2 separate regions of the Homo sapiens genome follow, and region 2 is linked to region 1. Evidence: fine-mapped expression QTL. A gene starts in region 1. The other region holds a variant in brackets. All regions are shown on one strand. Distances are between the middles of the regions.

Region 1 (9,504 bases):
CATATGCACATCAAAGTTTGAGGAACACAGTAATATGACACTATTAAATATTTTATAGCTGGATTAGAATTACATAAAATGTAATCAAAAAATAATTCTATCAATGCATATTTAAAAAATCCACTTTTGATGATACCCAAAATTAGTTTATACTTATATATTTCTTCTTACTTCGTTAAAATTAACATCGATTTTCTAATAAACAGAAAACCACTACAAGGAGATGCTCAATAATTGTTGAAATCTGATAAAACTAGATTGAAATCACATTGGATTAGATTTAAAAAGGTATCTTTAAATGGAAAAGAAAGACAGACTTAGAAGATGGGAAAAATAACAGCAGTCAGTTTTTGGTACACCTCCTCAGTATCACATACCTGCCTGTTTTACTCGCTAAGCTGCATGTTCTCTGCAGGTGGAGACTCTGATATTCAGATGTGCTCTGAACAGGGGGCACATTTCAATCGATGAAGAAGTAAACAATGATTTTCTTTAATTTATTCCTTTATTTTTAAGCATTAAAATATTCGGCTGCTAAATAACTTTGCTATTACTACTGACATTTTTCTACTATTTATCCACTACAAAATCTCAGAAGTAACATAAATGGTATTATAATAACAATGTAATAAAACTGAGAAGTAAAACCATCAGGGAATAATTAACCAGGGCGTGTATCTACTTTCAGATTATGACCACTCATTTCATCCTGTCTCCTTGAAAATTGTACAAGCTCTGTTCATCCACTAGGGTAAAGCATGGCATCAGCTTATTGAATAAACACTTGAATGTTCCTGGTAAAAGAAAAGATTTTATTAAACAGTTAATATTTGGAACTAGGTTTACATCAATCATCTGCTTTTTTAGAGAACATGATTGCCCTCTAGTGTGGTGAAAAGTTAATGCAGACACCGAGGTTTTCCAATGGACAGAACCAGTCTAGGTTCTGAAAACATCTGGGTCACTGGCTAGTTCAGTATTTTCTTTTTTAATGAAAAAATTCTAGCATTTTTTCATATAAGGTCACAGATCTTGTGACAACAGGATAATATGTGTTTTTCTTCCCACGACCAAAAAAGAAACTGGTGTGAGCTGGGGTTCGCTATCAGCAGCTCCCAGTGGCCACGCCCAGGCCTAGGTTTGTGCTCTGAGCTTCCTCCTGCTCGGAGGCCAGCTTTTTTCAGCCTCCTGTGAGCAATGAGCTACCAAGGTAGCCTGAGCATGTGATCAGTCACACTCAGTTGAAGTAAAAAATAATGGTGATTGATAAATCCGGAATTTTCCTAAAGATGGCCTGAATTTATCAATGACAAAGTCTTCCATTCAATATGTATCGATTCATCCTCCACTTCATTGTTAGTTGTACAGATTTAACTTTAAAATTCTGTTTGATAGCTACTGCTAGGTATTCACAGAACTAAGTAACTATTTGATCTTAAATTATAGGGAAGAAAACTATTTTATTATATGAATCAGCCTTATGGCACTCTGAAAGGACATTTCCTGAATCTGAGTAAATTGTAGCCTCTTGTAGCATTTTTTAATCACTGAGAATGAGCTATTTGATGGAAGTCATATTGTGCCAAATGATTAAATGCTTATTCCACCATCTATCCATTAGTAATTTGAAAAATAAAAACCCAAAGTAATTAAAACTGCTTTCAATGCAACAAATAAAAGTTTGCTAAAAATATTAATGAGGTAATAGCTGTAACAATAAAAACACTCATTTCTCTTTTAGAATAGAATAATTTACTACAAATCTGTAAGTCACATTATTGTAAAAAAAAACCATTGTGAATTTTGACTAAAGTTGTAGATTTTAATAGCACAAATGTCCAATCTTAATTATCATTTTAAAATATACTTTCTCTCAGAGAATTTTAACGTGCATAGACAAACACCACAAGGTCTATTAATTTATCCTATCATTCTAGCTACCTGCGACGTGTTACACTGGGACAGAGAGTGTTTATTGCAGGCTCAGCTTACTCACCTGGTATAAACTAAATACATGAGATTAATTGATAAACTACTGCCATTTCTTTCAGTTTTATCCTGAAATTCTGACCAAATCCTCAGCTTTTCATTTCTAGTTACTTATATATCCATTCAGAAGGTGCCCACTTCATTAGAAAAGATAATGGGGAATATTATATGCACCTCTTACAATCATGCTGAATACATAATTGTTTAATGAATCAGGAAAAAAGCACTCGCCCTGATAATTAATTATCTTTGAAATTGGAATTAATTTCAAAATCTATTATTTTAATACTGCAGAAGTAGTGTTTTTTTCATGATTTGCAAATGCAGTTAAATTATGGCCAGAAAGGATGCTTGCGTTTGTCATATTTGGGGTGGGATTTTTATTTGGATGGCGGCTACCATTTCACGATCCATGTATCTGTGTAGGATTGAGGCTGTATCAAGAATCAGCAGTTGGAAGAACAGTTTCAGGGGAAAAAACTTAAAATTTTGTGCATAAACTATATTTATATATTTATAGATATAACCTTATGTTGAAGATCATCTCAATTATATATGTGTATTCTCACCCATTGCAGCCACAAACAATTCTTTGCAGAGAATTTTCCAGCAATCGTTGGCACACAAACCCTGCTCTTAGCAAGCACTTGCACATGTATCTTAGCCACATGAACATACATAATCCTGGCAGGAAGCAAAAATATATTTGCTTTATAACTTAAAATGAACAACTGGAGACAAATTTACCTTTTTGTGGGGGAAAGGGATGAGGGCAATTAGGAGGAAGCAAAGCGAACGCAACAAGGGTTAATCCTTAACCAAGAGCAATCCACGTCCCTTTTGAACAAATGAGAACAAACAAGGCTACTGAATCATTAAATAATAACAACGATTTGAAATGATAATAATACTGATGATGACGATGAGTTTGCAGCCACTAGCCTGCAGCGGAAACCTTTCTGAGGGGTGCAGAAAGCGAGGCGAGATCGCCCCCACCACCCATTCTCAGAACCTTTCTGGACGTGCGAGTGAACTGCGAATTGTGGAAAGCGGGGGTAGCTCAGGACACTGCGCAGAAACCGGTCTCCCCGGCTGCACCGCGGGGGCGAGCGCCCAACTCCGGGGAGGGGAGCGCAGGGCGCGGCGCGGGGCTCTGCAGGGCTGGCTGCGCTCCACACACCCAGTCGCCACGTGCGCCCCCACCCGGCCAGCGGTAGGCGGCTCTGGGCCTCAGCTGGGAGGGGTGGGGCCGAGCCGCGCCCCGCTGGAGGAGCGAGGGTCTCCCTTAGAGAAGCCCCTCGCGGGGTCTCCATTCTGGAAAATCATAGAGAACAGAGGGTGGGCGGGGGGCTTGGGCTGGGGGAAAAAAAGCCCCGAGCTCCGCGGACCGTGGGTGGGCGAGAAGAGACAGCCCTCCCTGAATCCCTGGGAAGGGGGTCACCTCTGCGGTCTCGCGCCCGGGCTGGGTGGGGCCGCGCCTTTGTGTGGCCGGGCGGGGCTCGAGCCAGCTTTTCTGCAGAGCCACCCGCTTGGCTGGGAGGGGCTCGGTGCTGGGGCTGAGAGCCACGCCGGGGGTCTGCGCACATCAAGGGGTGCTCGGGCCGTTGTGGACTGCGGGGCTGAAAAAAGAGGTTCCAGGACTGCATACAGCTCAACTGCCCCTCCCATATTCCTCTTCCCCGCCAGTCTCGGAGCCTGAGGTCTCCCCGGCTCCGCGGGGAGGGTAGGGCAGGGCGGAGCCGCGCAGATGGAGTCCTTTCGGCAGCTTTCCCTGTCTCCGCATCCTGCAACCAAGTCCCGGGGGACACGTGCTTCCAGCTGCCACAGGACCCCAGGCCCCACCCTGCCTTTTCACCCCGGGGCCACTGAGCGCCAGAACCGTGGGCACTCAAGGCACAAGACCAATTGCGGATGAAGGCCCTGAATCCAGAATCTTTTCCGGTCATCCTGTGTCTCCACTGTCTTGTCTCTCTGAGCTTATGAAATTGCCGATATTTGGCACTGTCTGACCCACAAAACGGAAATTTCGCGTGGCTTAACTTAAGACTTTGACCTCTTTTGCTTTATATACGATTTCATGTCATCTCTATTATTATACATACACATGTCTAGGTTCTAGAAGCTTTTCCCGCAAACGATCAAAGGTCTTCAAAGAACCCTTTATCTGTGTCTATGTCTAAACACTCTATGTAATTTGCTTCCGAAAAGAAAAATGTTAACCCACTTTTCCCATCTCTCTTAAAAGCAGAACAATGAGGCCAGCGTGGGGAGGGCGGGGTCAGTGGTCAGGTCTCTCTTGGAAGCCGCGGCGGGGAGTCGGGAGCGGGGAGCGCGGGGCGTGGCGCCGCTGTCCCCGCAGGGTTGGGCTCCTGGGTGTCACGCTGCGCTCCCCACCCGACCCCCTTTCGAATGAAGATGCAGCACCGGGCGGGGGGGCGGGGCTGCGCGGTTCCGCACTGGGTGGGGCTGTCCGCATTGTGCGCCCAGCGCTGCAGGTGCCTCCCCCCGGGACCGCTGGTCCGCACACAAAGAAACCCCACCCCAGCGCCTTCGAAGCCGCTGTCCCTCCACCCCTCCCTGCCGCGCGCTTCCCCGCCCCTGCAGCTGCCCACCCGCGCCCTCCACGCCCTCCGCGACTTCCTCTCTCCTTCCCCTCCCTTGCCCTAAAACAAAGGAGCGGAGGTCCTACCCCCACCCTGTCCCCCGCCGTCTTACCTCCCTGCACCGCACCCCAGGACTAGCGGTTTCTTCGACGAGACAATACCGTAAAATGTGCCCAGTTCTCTCCATCCCCTCCCCCCGTCTCCACCCATCTTTCAAACAGCGGGATGGGACCGCTTTGACTTTGCAATTTTCTTTTTCCTTTCTCCCACCTTCCCTTTACCCCTTTCCTATTTTCTTCTTAAACTAGAGAAGAAATAAAAAAAAAAAAGGTCGTTATAAAGCACTTTCCAAAATGTCCCTTAAGCCCATTTAAGGCAAACAGTTAAGGTAGCTTCCTCCCCTCACGATTGAGTCCTAATTTTAAATATGGAAACAGAATAAATTCTCTACCCATAGGAGGGCAACTTACCCGCTTCTACCTTTTAAAAGAAATTCTTCGCTTTAGATTTCCATAGACCTCTTCTCTGCCCTCCCACCTCCCCCAGAACTGCCCTGTCCTTCCTGGTCCTGTGTTACCATTAACATCTTTTTCTTTATAAAATATCTCTGAATGCTTCTAGAGCTCAAGAGAGGAGGTGAGAGGTGGGCTCCAGGTAGAGCCGACGGAGAACGAGGCGCAGTGCCTTACCCATTGCTGTTTTAGCCATTGTAGGGATGTGCAGACGCTGAGCAGTGGCGAAGGCAAAGGGTCCGGCTACAGCAGCGGAGAGAGCGAGAGAGAAGACTGAATAAGGCACTGAGTCTGCAGAGTGGGACCGTGCTAGAGAAAGAGCAAGAGGCAGGAGCCCATGAATAATTATCACTCAGAAGCTCAAGCAGATTGGCTCCCAAGGTCCCCTGACATGACTCCCGCAGAGTCAGAATCTCCAAGCATTAAATATTGATCGGCCAATGGTGCTGGAGTACAAAGTACCAGAATGCAGTTTGAAATGGAAATCAGTCCTTCCCTGTCGGCTCCCCCCATTTTGGGGGCCTGATAGTACAGTCCAAGTAGAGTGGAGCTTTAAGCCCTGAAGCTTCCTAGGAGCTAAGAACTGGGCTGTGCCTACCTGGGAGCCAGGAGGCTTGACTTTGCTCATACATGTGCCATTGCACAATTCAATGGAAAAGGATTCAGAAGCTTGAGAAGTCCTCACTATATGCAGGCTGTTGGAAAATTCTGTTTAAATACTGTGTTTTCACTTTTTCATATTTTCTTTCACCTTTGGCTCTGTCCTTGGTTCTAGTCTTTCAGGGCTACCCTATGTCTGGCTATGGTGGCAGCTCAGAGCAGACTTGCATTATTGTCCTTTATCTTTTAGCACAGCTGGACTTAGGCGTCTCTAAACTCTTGAAGGTCTCTCAGGAGAGGGAAGCATGGTGTTTTCTTCCCTTGGCACAGAGGAAGGGGCTACCTGGTTGCTTGGGAATAGGGATGGTAATAATGGTCCACCTGGGGACATGGGGGAAGAGGAAGAAAGTTTAACCTCTGGTGCCTGTGTCCTGTCCATTTGTTAACACGGCAGAAAACAGGTTGGCTGGCTGGTTTGGGCATTAAGGAAACCACAGGTGAATGCCATGTTGCCCTGAAGGTGTAGGATTAAGTGGGTCAAAATTTTAGTAACCTTTCCAGGGCTCTAAGGAGAATGCTTTACATGGAAAACTTAGAAGAGATGAAAGGTGTGGTCTGGGTCATTATTTTTCTGAGATCCAGAGAGACTACGTTTATGTAGGCCCAGGAAGGCTGTGTTCAAGTTTCGGATTGAGCAATGTCGTATGTGAGGATCTTTGAGACTAGTTGCAAAAAATGACTTTCATTACAAACAAGGCATTTATTAGTTCCTCCTTCTCACTTAATGGATGCCAGTCATTCATTTGTTCTCTTTCACTTGACTTAAATATGTATTGAGCATTTACCATGTGCACAGCTCTGAAAATGGTGAGAAAAAGTTTAGGAGTTGCTGCATGAAGTTTTTAATTACTGCTAATTTAACTCTTCTGTAACTTTATTGAGCCAGTCTAATTCCATGCAGAAACTGGTTTTAATATTAGAAAAATAGGCAAAGAATTGCTAATTCCGACGTTTGAAAGCCAAAAGAAGAGCACATTGTTGCAATCATGAACAGGTATGAAACCCTGGCAAGTTTTTAATTTCAGAAAAATGAATGTATTTTTTTCTTCTTATTAAAATAGGTTTTTAGCAGCTTTCTGTCCAATCACATTTCAACTTTTTTTTCTATCCTCAGGAACAATACACAGTTTCAAATACATAAAACCAATTGAAAATAGCAGGGCACTCTCCTTGGTGCTGAAATGAATTTCTTCACCTCCTATTAACTTGTAAGACATTTTAACCTCATGGACATTTTGCTGACTGATAGGATGCTACTGGAACTGGAACAGTTTTGACCTGCTGAATCATGGGGAAAATAAAAGATGAAGTGGAGATCAATAAAATTATTTCTTGAACAGGAAGATTAGAAATTATATTTCCTATCTTTGAACAGGTCTGTGACTATGACACAGCAAGAGAGCAATATGGAAGTTGGCAGGGTCTGGAAATAAATAACCATTTTCTCTCTATATATAGGCATTTCCCACTTTAAATGTAACAGTTAATCACCTCTCACTGGAGTAGTTATCACTCATGAGGTGAAGGATCTTCAGCATGTCTGTGTGACTAATATTTTCAAAGTATTTCTCTTCTCCCCACCACACCCTTTCCCCTCAGGCTGTGTGTCATCTCTACACATTCTTCAGCTTCCTTGGAGAACAAGGGCCCTAAGTCATGGCATTAGTTTCTTTAACAACTGCAGTTGGCTGCTGAATGAAATCGATTGCACTTTTGATGACTATGAGGAAAACAAAACACTCATTCTACTGCCCTAAGGGTCACATATGTGACTCTTTTCTATTTCCGATTTTCTAGGTGTTAGCCACCTAACTTCAGTTATGAATGATTTTTAAATAATGTCAAACAGGGAAGAGAGTAGGTCAATATGATTTACCATAGAATAAAAAGATAGTAGGCAAAATTGTCAATCAGCTAAGAAAACACAAATAAATTCAAAGGGCTGTGCCATTATCAAATTGTTTTTTGTTTTCTTTTATCATTACAATATGGTATCATGCATATTCACATGGGAAAGTAAGGGTGAAATATGAACAGAAAAATTATTTCATATTCAATATGTTATTCACTTATTCATTTGTTCAGCTAATTTATTCAACAAATATTTATTTGATGATGTTTCAGGCTTTTGTGATGCCAGCCAAGCTTCTCCTTAATGTCTGAAAAATAGAAAGTGAAGGAAAATATAACACCCATCTCTTTAAGAAAATATTAATTTGGGGGAGTGAATATGATCTTGTGTATTGTGGATCACACTTTGTTGCAAAAATTTGAAAAAATAACCCAAACTGGCACTAATAATAAAAGTGCATTTGCTGTTTCGTCTAACCATATAGATAGAGTTGGCCCTAGAGGTCTGGAGGTGAGATCAGCTTTTCCTGAAGGAAATGGTTTTGATGGGAATGGGTGGACACTCAAAGAATAGGTACTACATTTGCACAGTATAAACTAAGGACAACCAGTATCTGTCGTGTGGGGATTTGGGTAGACTGAAGGGTTATCATGTATGAACTGTCTAAGCCATCATGGATATATAGTAATTTTAAGTACTATGACTATATTTAGTGTTTCCAATACATTTAAACCTTTGAAAGGTAGAGAATGAATAGTGTATATCTTTATACCCTTCCTAGTGGTTGGTTTCATGATTCACGTGGTAGACAGTTAAAAACAATTTGTGAAATAATAAATAATACAGTGTTGAAAATGATTCAAAATGGATGAATCCAGTGAGACCATATTGACACTTCTAACCTCCTTTGCTTAGCTTGTGTTGGGAGCAGGTATTAGGCTGTTTACCAGTGTTTATTTATTTATATCCTGCCCTATTCCCAAAGAACCTAAATGAGTAGAGCTCACAATAGTAGATGGCCCTTGTTAATTTTTGTTATCTTTAACAGCCAGCAGTAAGCTGGAGCTGTGGAAATCACAGACTTGCTAACAGAAATTTTAATTATTGTGGGTTATAGCCTAGTGTGTATTATCTCTGTGAGGAGGCCTGAGGTGTTGATTTCTTTCCAAACCAGAGAGAAGCAGTTGCTTTGGAGGATTAGCTGATGCCATCTAACACAGTCATATGATTTTCTGCTATTCATAATCAAGTGCCTGGGAAAGAATCCTAAAGTAATTATTAAAAGTTAGTGAGATAAGAGAAACATTGTTAAGGTCAAATTAATTGTTTTGATCTGACCTCAGGTGATTACAAAAGAAATGTGAGAGATAAAATCCATTGAATTTTTTTAGATGTTTAGAAATTTAGGATATAAAGTAGTTATAGCTGAAGATATTTAGAGATGCATCTAAAATAATCACACATGAAAAAATAGTTGACTTTTTAACATTTTGATTATTTTGCCATGTTTAAATTCTTATAGATTAATGAAAAATAAAAAGGATCATGTGTCCTTTAATAGAACTGTCTAATATGGTTTATTCAAAAGGAAAGTCATTCCAAGGAGGGAGAGTTGGTGTTCTTTATTAGCAGTGAGCTCTGTATTGCTCAGGAATTTGCCAGTGTGTTAGAGTTATTTCTGAAGTGTGGAACAAACACACTTCATTGTTTTCTTCTTAAATTAGTTATTTAAAAATAAACAATGATTAGTTAATTATTATTATTTTTTCTCTACCTAGGGTTTTCTTTATGTCCAAATGGGACTTGTATGTATTAATAATTAGTATAATTCACCCTGAAGCAAAATGACTTATTGAAATTAGTAAATCCTATTGATAGTTTTATAATT
Region 2 (9,504 bases), 270 kb after region 1:
AATAATTCTGGTGAATAACTGGGTTTTGGAACCACAATTTAAGTATTGCAGTGTTTACTCTTTATTGCTTTTAAAGGAAATATATTATTTTACTCTTCTTAAAATAAGCATAACTATATAACACACAGTGGCCAACTGACTCACAACTGAGCCATCTTATCTTATAATTAGGAAGGAATTTAATAAAAACTTGTGTTCATACTGCCTTTTTATCACTTCATTTTCTAAAATCTTCTTTTAGGAAACTTGCCTCAAAGCATGATTCATCTTTTACCCAGCTTCAAAAGAAAACATTTTAGTCTTTGTATTTCACTTCCAGGATAAGGTTTGATTGCTTTAGAGAGTCAGAAAACAATAATAGATTCATCCCCTCCCACTCCCAGGAATATTTAAGAATAACAGGCCCCAATTTCTTTTTAATCTCTTTTGTGCTATTTTTTTGTTCTATTTTTAAAGGAAATTTTCTTTCTTCTTCTTTTTCCCTTTCCTCACCACCTCCAACTGTTGTTAGCAACTCTCTAATTTTTGTGCAATCTCATTTTTATAATTTGGAATTAGATCAAACTTATTAAAAAGGAGCAGATGCTTCCCAGAAGATGCTGTTGTGCCTTTGCTTTGTTCTGTATTGACATCGTGGATTTCTATATTTCTCTGATTATTTACCATTGTTTATGTATTAGTTTGGTTAAAAATCAATTAATGTTGACTCTTTTAACCCTCTGAACAACATTGTGGGGCTAGTATTATTATCTGCTAATTTGAACCACATGAAATTGCTATGTTTGAAGATAAACAAAAGCAATTGAATATTGGCAAATTTAATACGATTCAGCCTAGTATACTTGATGGCTCCATGCTATAGATCTCAAACAAGTGACTTTGCTCAGGGTTACCTAAGCATATAAATAGAATCAGTTTCAGTGTGTTCTTCCCCCTAAAACATAGTTGTTTCTCTTTTTAAAAAGTATTAACCGGCTGGGCGCGGTGGCTCACGCCTGTAATCACAGCACTTTGGGAGGCCGAGGCAGGTGAATCATGAGGTCAGGAGTTTGAGACCAACCTGGCCAGCATGGTGAAACCCCGTCTCTACCAAAAATACAAAAAATTAGCTGGGTGTAGTGTCGGGCACCTGTAATCCCAGATACTTGGGAGGCTGAGGCAGGAGAATTGCTTGAACCCAGGAGGTGGAAGTTGCAGGGAGCAGAGATGATGCCACAGCACTCCAGCCCTGTCTACAGAGTGAGACTCTGTCTCAAAAAAAAAAAAAAAGTATTAACCAACATTTACAACCTGTTTTTGTTTCTCAATTGGAAATTTTTAGGTCTTAAATTGCATCATTTACTGTATAACACACATGTACAGCTCTCCTTCACAGAGTGTACATGCTGCATTTGTATTGTTCTACCATGAAGCAAGCTATTCTATGTTTCCCTGTATACATACATGGTTATTTGTGAATATACAATTTTAGGTAAGAAATTACTATTAGTATTTATAGAACTTTACAGCATAAAGAATTTTTCGATTTGATTACTTTGTGTATTATATTGAGAAAACCTAATGTATAAAGGTGTTGATATTATTTTATTTGTTCAATGCCTATTATGTCTAGTAGGTATTTTAACTAATCAGACCAAAAAGGAAGGAGTAGTAGTACAGCATCTAAGTCCTGGGAGCTTGTTCTATCTAATAAGATCCCAAATTATAGAAAACGTTATTTTAGTCTTGGAAGAAAGTCTATACCAGAGTAAAGTTCTTGAACTCATAACTGTTGAAATAAATTTATTGTTTTAATAGCTCAATTCTTCTTACTTTCCTGTATTGGTGTTCCTTCTCATGTGTTATAACTTCACTATGAGTTGGGTGCCCTGTTGCTTTGCTTGACTGGGTTCTCCATGTAACTTGCTTTAACCAACGGAATGAGGTAGAAGTGACGGTATGCCTGCTGCAAGCCCAGGACTCATGAACCTTGTGTATTTCTGCTTGTACTCTAGAAAAGTGGTTCTCAACTAGGGGCAGCTTTTTCCCTAGGGGAATTTGGCGATATCTGGGAGCATTTTTGGCCACAACTTGGGGGATTCTACTGGCACCCAGTGGGTACTGGCCCAAGATCCTGTGGAACATCCTATGATAGAATAACTCTTTACAACAAAAAATATTCAACCTAAAACATCAATAGAGTTGAGTTTGAAAAACTTTGCTCTTTACAGACTCTGTCATCACCACAAGAAGGATATGCCTGGGCTACCCTTCAACTTTTAGAGGGAGGATGAGAGGCACATGGAGTAACACTAACCTGCAGAAACATGAGTAAGACCAGTCAAGATCAACCAACACCAAGCCTTGTGACTCATGAGATTTAATAATAAATAATCTTCCGTTTAATAACTGAGTCTTAAGGTGGATTGTTTTGCAGCAATACCTAACTGATAGAACCTTGTAACAGAGGAAAGCTGAATATTGGGTGGTAGAGTCACAGTCAACATACCATGTTAACAAATTACTCAGCAAAAGATAAAAATTAATCTATCACTTCCTACACACCACCAATGGAAGACTTTTTTTAAAACTTTTTCTTTGAAAATAAATGCAGTTTTAAGGTTTGCGTAGTGAATCTATTTCACAAATCAAAGGATAAATAATTTTGGTATATTAGCATAGATAAGAACATCTCTTCTAATTAATTAAAAAGTGCCGTAGTGCCTGGCACCATCATGAACACTGTAATTGTAAAGAAAAATAAAACATGGCCCCTGCTCACTATAAGCTTCCCATACAGCTGGAATATTCAAATTCCTTGGCTTCATTCAAGTATTTTTAACTAGTGGAGATTTTATCATTGTTTTAGGAAGAGTATCTACCTTAAAACAAATATATTTTTGGAGGCAGAATTATAGCTGGAAATATTAATTGTTGTACTTTCTGTGTTTTTGTTCCTCCTTTCTACTCTCTAGTGGTAGTGGGGTAGGGGAGGGCAGTCTTTGCTTTCTCAAGCCAATATTGAAATAGAAAAAAAGACTCAAAAAATACATATCCAAGCACAAGTCAGAAAGACGCACGTAAGTATTTATGGAGGCATATTTTTGGTAATCAAAGACTAAAAAGACAAGGGTAGTGGGAAGGTGGGACTATCCTAGAAAAGAGAAACAGGGCTTGATTTCTCAAAGTGGAAGAAAGGGCTGAATTTTCCTCTTACAAGCACTGGGATTGACGATGAAGGGGCTTGTAATGATGATTACTGGTTCTTCTCCAATATATATTTTACCTCCTTTCCAGTGACCCACTGCCAATGGACATCCAAAGTTCCTCGTTCTAGATACTGGTGTTTCACAGAATAAAAATTAAAGGACTTGGACTCCTTGTGTGGAGATGGGGATGAAAAAAATCTCATTTGTATTTTTCTTATGACCAGGTACAGCTGGGGACACAATAACACTGCATTTTTTTTTAATAGTAGCGATGCAAATGTAATCATGTTTTTCTTGCTACGTTTAGCCTACTTTCTATTTTTACCTGTGACACATTTGTACGCATATTTCATGCTACTTAAATATTTAAAACTTTCTCATTACCTTTTCATTTTTAAATTATTCTTTGTCAATTGCATATATAACTAAGTTTGTGATTTTTCCTACCAATGTCTAAAAATATGAAATCCTAGAAATGTGTTTTTCTTGTATCCATAGTTATCCAACATATTTTCATAGCAGCAAGGCAGATTCTTGTGGTAACTTGGTTCCTATACCTCCCATAACACAAGGACTGAACATGGCTTTTAGCAGATGGAGTATGTGTTATTTCCACTTGTGGCAACATGAAACCTGGTGTGGTGAATAGTAGGGGTCTGCCCATGATGCCCACCTCTTGATTTTCATGTCTGATTTAAATGCTCTGTGGAAAAAGGATGGATTTACTCCCTCCCCCAAATTTGGTTCAGATATCAAGACATGATCACACACAAACACACATACACACACACACGCACGCACACACAGACAGCATGGAAGGTCTTATTTCTTGTGTAAGGCTAGCTTCCCATCCTGGTCCAAACATGGCCTAAGAGAACAGGGAAAGGAGACTTGAATGGGGGTTGTTATGGTTGTCAGAGAGTGTGGCTGGGGTTAAGGTTCCCACACACAGCAGGGTTTGTGTGGAGTGAACCTCCACTGGCTCCAAAGGAAGAAGTACCCAGGCTTTCTTTTCAGGTGACACAGATGCAAGCAGAAGGGAAAGAGGAGAGGTGAGGCATGTCTCCAATCAAATATCAAAAATGAATTGAGACTGTTGATTACCCTGCTTCTATGTAATGCCCTCCCCTTGAGTGTGGGTGAGAACTGTGACCTGTAAATGTTGTGATTACATTATATTATGTGGTAAAGGTGATGGGATGTTACTCCCATGATTATAATACAATGTGTATACATATATGACTCCGAGAAGACTCTCTCTTCTCT[C/T]TTGCTGCCCTGAAAGCAGCAAGCCTTTATGTTGTGAGCTGCCTATGGAGAAGGACACATGGCCAGAAACTGTGGGCAGCCTGCAGGAGTTGAGGGCTTCAGTCCTCCAATTTCAAAGAACAGAATTCTTCCAACAAACACAAGCACATAATCTTGGTGAGGACCCCGAGCCTCAGATAATAAGACTCTAGCCCAGCTGAAACCTTGATTGCAGTCTGGGAGACCCTGAAGTAGAGAACCCACTCAAGCTCCTGATCCACAGGAGCTGTGGTATAATTAATGTGTGTTGTTTTAAGTTGTTAAGTGTGCTGTAAAATGTTATGCAGCAATAGATAATATACCAAAGGATGACAATTTTTTTCTAGTCCTCTCCCTTTATCTTTCGCTATGAGGAAAATATATCTGATTTGTAAAAAGGGTATTTCATAGGAATATCTTTTCGTTTTGTTTGGGTAGATGGCAAATAGAGTCAGAAGTGGAAGTCCTTAAACATAGCAGTGAGTTTCCGGATGAAATTCAAGGAAAAGTATGTAAGAATGGGAGAAATTGGAAATCTATGTAAATAAACATAGCATCAGAAGTGACTTCAAGTAGCATTCTACAATGGCAGAAGCACAAGATAGAAACCATGAAAGGACAATCAATAAGATGTCTTAGGTAATTAGATGTAGGCATAAAGTAGATGAAGGAATCAAATATAATTCAGAGATTTTTTGATTCATGATGACGTGGAAAGAAACTAAATTATTGATAGAAACTGGCAAATCAGAGAGAGAGTTTAATGTGAGGAGATTACTTTTACATTAAATATGTTGAATTTGAATTGACCAGAAAGAGAGTTGTGGTCCAAGACTGACATACATTGACACAACAGACATGCATTGACCCCTTCTAGGAATCTAGTTTGGTAAGAAGCCCGGGGCGTAAAACTGATGAGTAAGCGATGTAATCAGCTTTTGAGATGCTTGCACTCTCGTTCAGGCAGACGCATACCAGGAGTGCATTCATACAGAATACAGGTCCTAAGATAGAGGTAAAATCAAAGTACTGGGAAGCAAAAAGGTTGGACAACTCTTTATCATCCTTCAAGGCTCAGATAAGGTAGAGCTATTATCTGAGTGGCGCTTTCCCTGACCACTGTCTTCTCTGTCCCTTGTTTGTCTCTGCAAAGCTCTGTTATAGCACCGGCCCTCTTCTAATGCAATTATTTGTCAGCATGGCTGGTGTTTTTCTTACTAGATTGTGAGTTCTTTGAGAGCCAATCAGCCTCTTTTTTTCTCATCTCTGTATTCCTGGTGCCCAGAATAGCACATGTCACATGTTACACACTCAAGAAATGTGTATTGTGTGCATTATGGCTGGGGGGGGGGGGGTAATTCACTTGATTAAAGTATGATTTACATAAGGGAGAGAGGTTCTGTTTAGAGAAAAAGCTGGAGCCTGAGGACTACATTTTCAGGTACATCTTCAACAATCTGTTCATAAAACACATCAGGGCCTCCCATTGCATACAATGTTGCAAGCCCATTGAGTTTTTGTCTTTTTATAAAAAGGGACTTTAGATGTGTCGAGAGTGAAATGGGCACTTTTTATCAAAGGATGTTTATTACCAGCTTTGGAGGTGGGCACTTATAACCCTCCACACTTTAGATGTCTTCATAACTCAGACAGATATTTGGCCTACTGCCTTGCAACCTGGAGGGGCTGCCCCTGCTACATCAAGTAGAAAAGGTCTCAATGCCTTGGACTGATATGCAGTATGTGAAGCATGGTGGAAGTGAAGCTAATGCCAAATAAAATTTGAGAAAAACATCTCACATGTCTCAGAGTAGAGACTATAGCTTACCAGGGAAAATAATTACTTTTATAGATTGGAAGGCCCCTTAAGACTTCATCTTTGTTCTTTCTTTACAGTTGGAAACTTACTTCTGAAGTTTTATATTGCCTTATTTTTCCTAAATCCCAAAAGACATATTTTGTGAATTTTAAAAAAAGTTTCATTAAGCTATCTTGCCACCAAAAATGTGCTTCAGAATTTGGATTTATTATTGCAGATTTTTTTAAAAATGAGGTGACATGTGTAAGATAGCAATATCAGTGCATACTAATTCCTGTCTATTTCTAAATTCTGCTTAAAAGGACCAGAAAGTCATCTAAAACAATAACACGTTTTTCTGCAACTAATAAGGTGTAGGAAAATTAGTACTAGGGTGGAGAAAGACATCACCAGCAACACTGCTTCATCTCTACAAAGAACATTTCTGTCACTGCATCACATTTTAGTGCATTGACACATGACTGGGGTTTGTAATAATTACCCCAAGTAATTACTCTGAACAGCAATGCCTTCCCATTTTCTTTCCAGAGACTGGCTCATGCATACATGCGTGACAAATCCTGACCACTGAAACAAGAAGGAAAGATTGCTAGAGTGTTTCTGGGCATCTTGCTTGTCTTTAGTAAGGAAACAGAGGAAAGATAAACTACTTTCTGATTTTGGAGAACATTCTACTGTCTTAAAGTAATGCCTGGCACTATTGAAATAAGCCAGAGCATGAAGCTGCCACCCTTAAAGAAGAGCACAGCCAAAAACATGATGGAGAAGGGCAACTGGTGTCCTTATATCCAAACTTGGCATTGCCCTACGTCTGGAATTCTAGTTGTATGAGATAAATGTATTTCCTTATTTAAGCCAATTTGAAATAGTATTTTGTTACTTATGTTGAAGGCTTCCTAAGTGATACAGAATGTGGGAAAATGGAGAGTGCTCAAGGGAATACCGAACATACCCTAAAAGGTATATTTGCTGAGTGGAGGGAGTAGAGGGGAGAGAAGAGAGAATTCCCTACTCTAAAAGATCCACCTATTCTAGGCTAGGAAGTGGGTGACCATGGGTGAAGCATTTGCCAACATTCTTTTAAACTGTTGCCTATTGTACATTGGGACTTAGATCATTTTCCATACAGATTCTAGTGTTAGGAAAGCCACAGGGAAAGTTTGAAATATTGAAATGATGTGTTGTTGCCCAATGCTACTGGCACATTCCTAAAAGAAAAGATTTAGCTGAATATGGTCAAATCAAATGCACATAGAGAGAAACATGACTTATGTGACTTTAAGAAAAGTTGTATCTTTGATCTACAACCAAGTCCACTGATGGGTAGAATAGCCAAATTCTCTATTCCTAGCTAAAGTTAACCTAAATGTCAACAGAGAGACAGCAGTTTTTCAGGTTACCATAGTGGGATTTCATTCAAGTCCCTCCTATTAGTCATTCTTTTTTGGAAAAGAGGCCAATCCTAAGAAAAAGATTAGATTATTTGTGGTGCCTCTCCACCAAAGACAATTATTTCACATTCCTTCAGGGCGGAGGCTACTCATCTGGGGCCAACAGAGAAGGGAAGGACACAGAAGTGCATAGCCAGAAACAGGCATTTACATATTCAAAGATCACAGGTAAATCAAGTTCTTTAATTGTGGACTGGAAGCAAAAATACCTGAAACCTAATAAATTTTTATGAGAACTGCATTTTCCGGTGGAAGTATCCTTGCCATAAAAATTTCAGCTACTTAAAACGGTTTGTTGAAGCTCTTCTCTACAATGTCTGTCTTTACACCACTTGCCTCAGGTATGATCATAGGGGAAAATGTACAAGGATTTATATGCACAGAACAGAACAATGCTGCCAGGTTGGCTCATTAAAAATCATATTATTGGCTGGGTGTGGTGGCTCATGCCTGTAATCCTAGCACTTTGGGAGGCTGAGGCGGGTGGATCACAAGGTCAAGAGATCGAGACCACCCTGGCCAACATGGTGAAACCCCGTCTCTACTAAAAATACAAAAGAATTAGCTGGGTGTGGTGGTGCGCACCTATAGTCCCAGCTACTCGGGAGGCTGAAGCAGGAGGATCGTTTGAAACTGGGAGGTGGAGGTTGCAGTGAACTGAGATCACGCCACATCACTCCAGCCTAGTGATAGGGCGATACTTTGTCTCAAAAAACAAACAACACCACACACACACAACAAACAAACAAACAAAAAAACCATATTATTTTCCTGGGGAATCAAATCTTGTCTCTCCAACAGAATATATATAGTGTGGCTAATGACTCTCAAGTTTAATTTCTCATTCTTCCTTTATTACAATTGGGAATTTTATTTAATATTATTATCATGTCCCTTCTGCCCTTTTTGTACCAGTTATTTTAGGGGTAGATCCCTCATCTTTTAGCGTTAGGTTGCCAGGAGCAATATCTGAACCTGATGGAGAGGAATATATATAAGCCAGGAAATTCACACTTGGATCTGGATACAGAAGAGATTTTGGTCTTTCTTCAGGAAAGATATGAATGTGTTTATGTAGATGTTAGAATTTCTAAAAATATTTGTAGATATTGGTTAGCTAAAGAGGTGAACTGTAATGGTAATCATGGACTACTTCTCAATATCCTTCTACCCTCAAATGATTAGCACAAAACAATCATGGTACTCTCATTTCTTTTATCAATTCTAGGCAATGAAACTTCAATGGAATTTTGCTATTGTGCTTCTGGAAAATGGTTGTCTCCTTCTTCAAAAGACATACAATATGATATAGCTTCACTGCTCACTCTGGAAGTTACAGCTCTGGTTATAATGTTAGGAATTTCTGCAGCTACCTTGCTATGTGTTGAGGATCACTCTGGCACAAAGACAAGGGCAGTCTAACAAGAATGACAGAAACATAAAGCTGGAGCCCTGCTGTAGAGTATCTCCCTGACTCTATGCTCTGTTAGACTCCATGTTGTAAAATAATACATTTCATCATTGCTTAGTTCATTTTGAGTTGGGTGTTCTCTTACTTGGAGTCCCAAAATACTAGCCTATAAGTAGTTTATCTATAGGCTGTCTTGATTTCCTTACTACAATGGGACCTGGTGTTTCATTTGATCTACATATATCCTTGGGGTGTACATCAGGGATGGGGTTGCTGGATTTAGCAAAGAAAAATACAGGATACTTAGTTAATCTAGATTTCAGATAAACATATATTTCATAAGACATACTT

Which allele goes with the higher level. Alleles are on the strand shown, and positions count from the first base shown. SD is a standard deviation of normalised expression in the study named.
As copies of C replace T in region 2, the expression in fibroblasts of the gene that starts at base 5,379 in region 1 goes down (moderate effect, 0.71 SD a copy in GENCORD).

Evidence for each region. PIP is the estimated chance that this variant, and not a neighbour inherited with it, causes the effect.
Region 2: its variant is the best candidate, but not a certain one, in a credible set for the expression of STMN2 in fibroblasts (GENCORD, PIP 0.64).

Annotation. Positions count from the first base shown.
Region 1 is chr8:79,606,992-79,616,495 of GRCh38, reverse strand. STMN2 (stathmin 2) reads right to left here and starts at 5,379. Exons shown (of 5, transcript NM_007029.4): 1 at 5,282-5,379. The coding sequence starts at 5,300. RefSeq lists a silencer at 3,070-3,129.
Region 2 is chr8:79,339,898-79,349,401 of GRCh38, reverse strand. No RefSeq gene overlaps it. Among named protein-coding and RNA genes, the nearest start is that of MIR12123, 12 kb to the right of the region's middle. The variant C/T (reference allele first, on the strand shown) is at 4,455.